2 linked regions of the Homo sapiens genome follow. The protein of the gene in region 1 interacts with the protein of each later gene in a pairwise test. Each region holds a gene or a part of one and is shown on either strand. Other genes may lie near its edges. The genes, in order: ALG9 and BHMT.

Region 1 (3,823 bases):
TCAACACTTAAAAAACAAGTTTTAATTTAATCATTAATGACTGACACAGGGTCTTTATGAAGCATAAGAAACTACTACCCAGTAAAGCCAAGCTACTGAAGCCATTTCTCAAATGGAGCAACATGACTCATCTTAACCAGATTTCCCTTTAACCTACACAGGACTCTTCTCTGGCCAAATGAAGCAAACTACAAAGAACTTTAGGGCCTATGCTCTCAGAACCACAGAAAGCATAAAGGAAACTGGTATAGACATTTTAACCACAGCCTTCCCCAGTGTCCACATAATGGTGGAGAACTTTCACTACTGTTGGGTCAAGAATGTCTTCTCTCTTCTAGCTGGAGTTTCTAGACCACTTTTAGAAGAGGATTAACATCAGATCATTATAGAAATGTAAATATGAATCCCCACGAAGAGCCACTGGCAAAAGCCTAGGACCCAGGGCATTTTCAGAAGTCCCCAGACACCTGCAGTTATGGGCAGTGCAGAATGTCTACCTAGACCCAGCCCTCAGCCTAATAAGCCTAATGAACACAGGAGGCAGGTACACAGTACACAGGCCCCACAGCTCTCCGACGTGGTAGATAATTCAATAACTCTCTGTGAAAACTCCAAAAGAAAACAAAAATTAGAAGACACTGATATAGAACTGCTCTATTTACTCCTTCATTTAAAACCCTAGGAATTAAAGGACAACTTACTTGTCAGGAAGAAGGAAGCTGCTGGGAAATCGATACCACTCTTTTCCCACACAGACATTCACAGGTCTGCCTTCTGGGACAGTGTGGATGGTTGGGTCTGTAGCAATTCGGTAAAATTCTGGATACAAATCAAGGGGCCCGTGATATCCTGGAAGGGAGAACAGTTAGTGAGAGCCAGAGATGAGTAAGATGAGATTCTCACTTTAATTATACTGCTCATTAATGTCGCACTGTAAGCCACAGGAAATTTAAAAGGCAGGAAGGGCCATAGCCATTCCAGCATGAAGCCTGCTCTGCAGGTATAAAATGTCTCTCTAGCTGGGAACACGGTTACAGCAGAGGCCCTATTCTGCAAAAAATAATTGGCTTTCTTGCCCCTCTCTATGCTCCTTCTTCTTTTTACCTTCATTTTCCTTGAGCATATTTTTAATATTATGGATCCAAACAATGATTATAAGAAAGAATATAATCATGAAATGTTAGCCCAAATTTGCATTTTAAGTTTAAGGCTTCCTTAATTTATCAGCATCCATTAAAAGAAAAAAACAACAAAAATAGACAAAAAATGTACAGTTAATCACACTAAAAGGAATTCTCAATCTTCTCTTCAATCCTAAGATACAGAAGTCATATGCCACTCATTAATATTAAGTCTACAGGTTCTCTTTTTAGAAATGGCTTCTTAGTATAAGCCAAATATGTATTATATAATCATGAATCAAGTAAAACCTAAGAGCAAGTGACTCGTCAGTGTAGGTTAAGATATTCTTAGAAGATCTACCTCTGAACAGTGCCACAGAGCGAGAAAATGACAAGAGCCCAAACAGGAAGACAGTTCCTAATGCCAGCCAATTCGATGTCACAGTATAGTGCTCCAGGCGATATCGTTGAAACACAAAGTGGTAACATTTCTGGAAGTACAGAAAACTGTGCTGATAAAAGAAAATATAATTTGTAGAATATACATAATTACAAGACATCACAGTAACATCAAGAGCGAAGCCAAAAAAGAGGTTCTATTAGGGATCTGAGCATTTGCCAACAGTGAGGTACCTACTCCAAACTCTAAGATAAAAGCCAACTCCTCTAAGACTACCTGTAGTCTTGGCCAGGCAGAGGGCTTGCCAACAATAAAATCTCACTAGCTTCATAGGAAAATTATTTGAATATTTTGCTAGCATTTATAGTCCTAATAAGTTATTTTTTTTAAATATTTAAGCAATGCTTTTTTGGTAGTTTTGATATATAAAGTATTCCAATTTGTTTTTGATATAATGAGTACTAATCTTTACTATCAAAGTTTTTATCAAAGCTATTAGTATCAAAAAAAGGTCTCATGACCAAATAAGAAAAAAGAATTCCCCTTATAGAACACTAGGAACATGCTCTTAATTATATGCTGAATGACTTTACAAACTAGATGAATATAATATAAACACACATGCATGAATTCTGCTGTCTTTGAGTACCTTCTACTCAGACTTCTTCCCTTCCTTCCTTCCCTTCTAGACAGAAACTACTTACAGAAAGCAATTTTCCAATATATAACAAATGGCATAAATCTGTTTGAACCTTTTTCATATTTTTTGGAATCTATCCTGAGGAATCAATCTAAATATCTAAATGAAGATATTTATCCTAGCATAATACTGAATAAATGAGCAACCTAAATTCTACCATGAATTATATCCAATAATTACATTATATAAAGTCAAGTCAATATATTACATATTACATAATAATGCTATATATTATATCCAACTCAGAACATTCTACAGCTACTAAAATGATAAGCACAGAGAATGTTACAATATTAAATTAAAAGGGATATAAAGTGGCTGGGTGCGGTGGCTCACGCCTGTAATCCCAGCACTTTGGGAGGCCGAGACGGGAGGATCACAAGGTCATGAGATCGAGACCATCCTGGCTAACACAGTGAAAACCCCGTCTCTACTAAAAATACAAAAATTAGCCGGGCGTGGTGGCGGGCGCCTGTAGTCCCAGCTACCCGGGGGACTGAGGCAGGAGAATGGTGTGAACCCGAGAGGCAGAGCTTGCAGTGAGCCGAGATTGCGCCACTGCACTCCATCCAGCCTGGGCGACAGAGCAAGATTCCGTCTCAAAAAAAAAAAAAGGGGGGGGGGGATATAAAGTTACATGTATACTTATTATTACAACTATAACAAACCTTGGTATATGATATACAAAAATGCTGGGAGGAGTTTTTGTTAGGTTAATGTGACTAATTTTTCTTTTACTACTTCCTAAATTATCTGCAATAAAGTTCAATTACTTTTATAATTAAAATTATTTTTTAAAACTATCACCTAATATTGATGAACCTTGAAAACATTATGTTAAGAAAAGCCAGTCACAAAAGACCACATATCATATGTTTCCATGTATAGGAAATGTTCAGAATAGGCAAATCTATAAGAACAGAAAGTAGATTAATGGTTACTTAGGGCTGGTGAGAGATGAGAAAGGGAATGGGGGAACAATAGCTAAAGGGTACAGGGTTTTTGATCTAAAACTGACTGTGGTGACAACTGCACACATCTGTGAATAGACTAAAAACCACTGAATCATACCCTTTAAATAGGTAAACTGTATGGTTTGTGAATTATATCTCAAAAAACCTGTTAAGAAAAAAACCTATCATCCTAATTATTTTTTTTCTGCCAACTGCAAATGGTAGCAGAGGGCAATACAGGGTTCTGAGGCTACTGAAGCCGTAAGTACAGAGATATTCAAACAGAGTTAAGATGAGCTCTGCCAGAGAATTGACCTGGGCAGGTTTTCAACCAGGATTACAAAGTGCCCCATACTGTGAACTGCCTGCTGTGATCCCAAACTCTTGAGCAAGTTTTGTTATGATCTAGCAGTTCAAAGAGCAGACATTCCATTACTTCTGCCACAGAATGGAATTCTGCAATTGGATTCCTGTTGGTAACAGAGGCAAAGTAACACACAAATTAACACTGCAAACATGTAATCAGCAAATACAAGTATGGTAAACAGCTAAGCAATCAATATAAGAAGGTTTAATAATATGATCTATATCAGGTTTAATGTTATGGATAAAATATCTTAGGTGGAAGCATTCTGTAATTTGCACTTAA
Region 2 (3,923 bases), on another chromosome or scaffold:
GCCAGATACCCACGACTGCGGCTGCTCCCTGCAGCCACCGCGGGGCTCACTCTAGACCTGTTCATCTCACCAGTGCTCACCAGGTGAATACCTTAACTAGTTAACGCATTAACTAACTAAACTGTTACCTATTCGGATACTCCAATGCCTTCAAGGTGTTTTTTTTTTTTAATCTAGGTACTGTGAAGAATGACTTTACCTCATGCCTCATTCTTGCTGACCCCAGATCACAGTTGGGGGTGGAGGAGCCAATGAAATAATAGATCACTTGAATAACAGTATATCCTTTCACCTTTTCATTTCTTTTTCCATTTTAAACTTGACATACTTAGAAGCAAAAGGACATTTTTACTTTCTCAGTTGTATTTCAAACACATGTCACTTTAGCCGTTAAATTTGTATTAATTCATCAGGTGTTGCAGTAACTTTCTTCTCTGCATGTGTTGAAATGGAGGTTGTTTGTCCACATACAGAATTTTTTTACATGCTTTTATTTGGGTAAAATTTTCTGAACTGTGTTTCAGATATTTCATTGTTCTGTAGGCTATTTACTGTCATGCTGTACATTTTTTTTTCTTTTGAGACAGAGTTTCACTCTTTTTGCCCAGGCTGGAGTGCAATGGCACAATCTCGGCTCACTGCAACCTCTGCCCCCAGGGTTCAAGCGATTCTCCTGCCTCAGCCTCCCGAGTAGCTGGGATTACAGGCGCCTGCCACCATGCCCGGCTAATTTTTGTATTTTTAGCAGAGACGGGGGTTTCACCATGTTGGCCAGGCTGGTCTCGAACTCCTGACTTCAGGTGATCCACCCGCCTCACCCTCCCAAAGTGCTAGGATTACTGGCATGAGCCACCGTGCAGGCCATGCTGTACATTTTTTAAAGTAATGTTTTTATTATTTTAAAATCAATGTATTCTCATTATAAAAATATTTTGGAAAATACAGTGAAACATGAAGAATAAAATAAAACAAGCCTTAATTCCGCCATCAATAGGTAACTACTGTTAACATCTCTATTCCCTCCAGTTCTTCTAATGTCTATGTTTTTATATCGTTTTCATGCTGAATTTTGAAGTCTTCAAAGTACATTTCTGCTTCCATTTATAAATGTTAAAAGTCTGTCCTTGTTAAATATTACAAACATATTCTTATTAGAAACTACTGTGTTATTAGAAACTGCAAGGCATGTTTGGGTATAGGGGTAGAAGGTCATTTTGAACATACCCGCCAATTCAGGGTTAGTATTGGACTCCTCTACTAAAGCCGCATTTGTGTCCCGTTATACTGGATGTATATCACACAGGAGATCACACTCCAGGCTGAAGATCTTCCAGGACTTCATCCCCTGATTCCATAATCTTGACGCCTTGGCCTTTGACAAATATCTGAGCATCGAATGGACTTCTCAGAGGCCTCTCTGGCAGCCTAAGTGGGCCATGGTGCATGATCCCAGGTGAGCGAGAGGACGGTCAGGGTCGGGGCAAAAGTGCAAGAGGCAAAAGGGACGCTAGGCAGGTTTGAAATCTGAGCGAGTGGCAACCTCGCTTTTTCTTATCTTACTTTTCGGTGGTTCCACCCATTTGGGTGAACAATCTGGATTACCTCCTTGGCAGGCCAGGTTCCCAACAGGAGGCGGGCCTGATGAAGGGCTGGTGGGCGTGTTCCCGCCCAAGGTCCGTGTTGGCCCGCGCGGTGGCTGGGAGGCCCTCCCCACGCCCAACTGCGGGTATAAAGAGGCAGGCTGCGGACTCGGAGCAGCTCGGGGCTGCGCAGCGGGAAGGCTCGCCTAGTCGGTCCGCATCCGTGTCGACCACCTGTCTGGACACCACGAAGATGCCACCCGTTGGGGGCAAAAAGGCCAAGAAGGTGAGTCTCCAGGGGACCCGAGGGCGCTCTCCTTCCCCTCCCACCTGCTCTGTATCCCAGCCTCTGGGAGCGCAGAGGGGCCCTCGGACCCTGCCTGGTACCCATCATCCTCCTACTCCCTCCCCTCCCTCAGCCTCAGACCAGAATGTGCTTCCAGAACTTCTCCAGCAGGACCCCAAGGCGCCTCTGAGCCTCCCCACTCCTGCCCCACGTTCAGAGCGCGCCCCCAGAGCGCCTCTGTCCCCTCCAGCCCCAGCCCAGCTTGGACCAGAGTGCGCCCCAGATCTATGTGATCCTTGCCTCTCAGACCCAAAGGCACCCTCTGAGCCCTCCCTGACGGCTGGGTGTCCCCAGAACTCCGAGCCTTCCAATATCTTCTGAATCTGGCACCCCAAGACCAGAAAACTCCCTAGAGATACTGCTCCTAGCCCCGCAGGCGCGATATCCCGTCCCCACGGAGCCCCTCCGCATCTGTGTCCGAGGCCGCCGCGAGCGCCCTCTGCACCCGGCGCGCCCAGAACAGGGAGGAGTGCACGGCGCTGGCTCCGACATTTCCCGCCTGGATCTGCACCGCGGGTGTCGGGGCCGCCTCCCCGCCGGGTTCTCGCTGCACCCAAGGCCCAGGCGCTGGTTGGGTGATTGCAGATTTTCACAGGCAATTTGATGTCCGTGATGACAGAAAAATGTCATCCGAAATGTCAGCCTCGAAAACATGGTTTAAGAAAAAATGGGCAGAGTGGCTGTAAGATACTGAGGAAGGGCTGTTGATGAAATTGTAAAACCCAATTCCAGCTCCAGATGAACAAGTCCATCTCTTGGCTATCCCAGTGGCTTGTTGGGAGGGGTATTTTCAGTCCAGACGGTAGGCCTTCCTCTAATTTGGGGAACGGATGGATAGATGGACTGACTGCCGTGGAATGAGACTGGACAGGTGGGAAGAGAGAGAGAAGGATGGAGGGAGGAGAGAATAAACTTGACCTTTTGGTCAAATGCCCAGTCCCAGGCCTGGCACGACAGAGGCCCCCGGAAAATGGTAGGGAGGCAGATGGGGCCAGGCCAACTGTATCCTCTGGGCTGTAAGGACAGTGAGAAAGGTCCAGCTCTCATCCCAGTGCCTGCCCTGCTGGAGAACCAGCTGAGGTGTGCCCAGTTTCTAAAGGGATGGCCTCCCAAATCAAAAAGACCTCTACACAAGGAAGAAGGTCAATTCGGTTACAGATTCTAAATGCAGCATCGTGGATGCATGTTGATGGCATGAGTGGGTGTTGAGATGGCAAAGGACTATGGACTATCACCAGTCAAAGGAGGGTGAGAATTTCGCCAGTCCCTAAATGTACTAAATGAATAGTCCACAGAGACTGGGAAGGATGATTCCTATAGATATAGATATTTTTTGTTTGTCCCCATTCTCATAGCCACGTAAGTCTAACTTATTCCCCAAACTCAAACTCAGAAAATCTAACATTTTAAAGAATTATCTTTGTAGAATTATCTAAGCAACAGATGAATGTAAGATGGAAAAAACAGTTTCCTAGTAACTTGTTTCCGTGCATATGTCAGTGTTAAAACAATATATGGACAATAACATGTCTACACATTTGAGTTTAAAATTAAAATAAATGTTACAAAGTTTGCACATGTTCATTATAAACAATGAGGGAAAGCACAAAGAACAGTGCCTGTTAAATTCTGGTGTATATTCTGCTAGTTTGTTGTTGAGGCAAATATGCACTTCTTAGACAAAAATGGGCTGATATTACATATACTGTTTTGTAATACTTTTTCACAAAATGGTATATTTTTTTCATAGCACATTCCACCTTTTAAAAAGTCTGTTTAGCTTGGGAACAGAAAATCCTGAAGTCTAGATAATTTTAAAATGCAATAGAATGTAAGAGATCATATTTCCAGAGGTAACCACTCAACAAGTGCATGAGCCACATAGTAATTGAATCGCCACTACCCACCCTGCCACCCAGCATCAGATCCTTAGCTATGCTGCACATTAAAATGCTGTGGTACTAAAATTTGAAAACACACACGTTCAATGGGAGCTG

Evidence for each region.
Region 2: the proteins of ALG9 (region 1) and BHMT interact in a two-hybrid assay, tested with the Homo sapiens proteins (one large-scale study listed by BioGRID and IntAct).

Annotation. Positions count from the first base shown.
Region 1 is NC_000011.10:111,836,767-111,840,589, forward strand, and holds part of ALG9 (alpha-1,2-mannosyltransferase ALG9), read right to left. Parts: intron 1,634-3,823; coding exon 1,483-1,633; intron 850-1,482; coding exon 702-849; intron 1-701. UniProt on the Homo sapiens protein: Mannosyltransferase that operates in the biosynthetic pathway of dolichol-linked oligosaccharides, the glycan precursors employed in protein asparagine (N)-glycosylation.
Region 2 is NC_000005.10:79,110,053-79,113,975, forward strand, and holds the start of BHMT (betaine--homocysteine S-methyltransferase 1), read left to right. Parts: upstream 1-1,756; 5' UTR 1,757-1,833; coding exon 1,834-1,866; intron 1,867-3,923.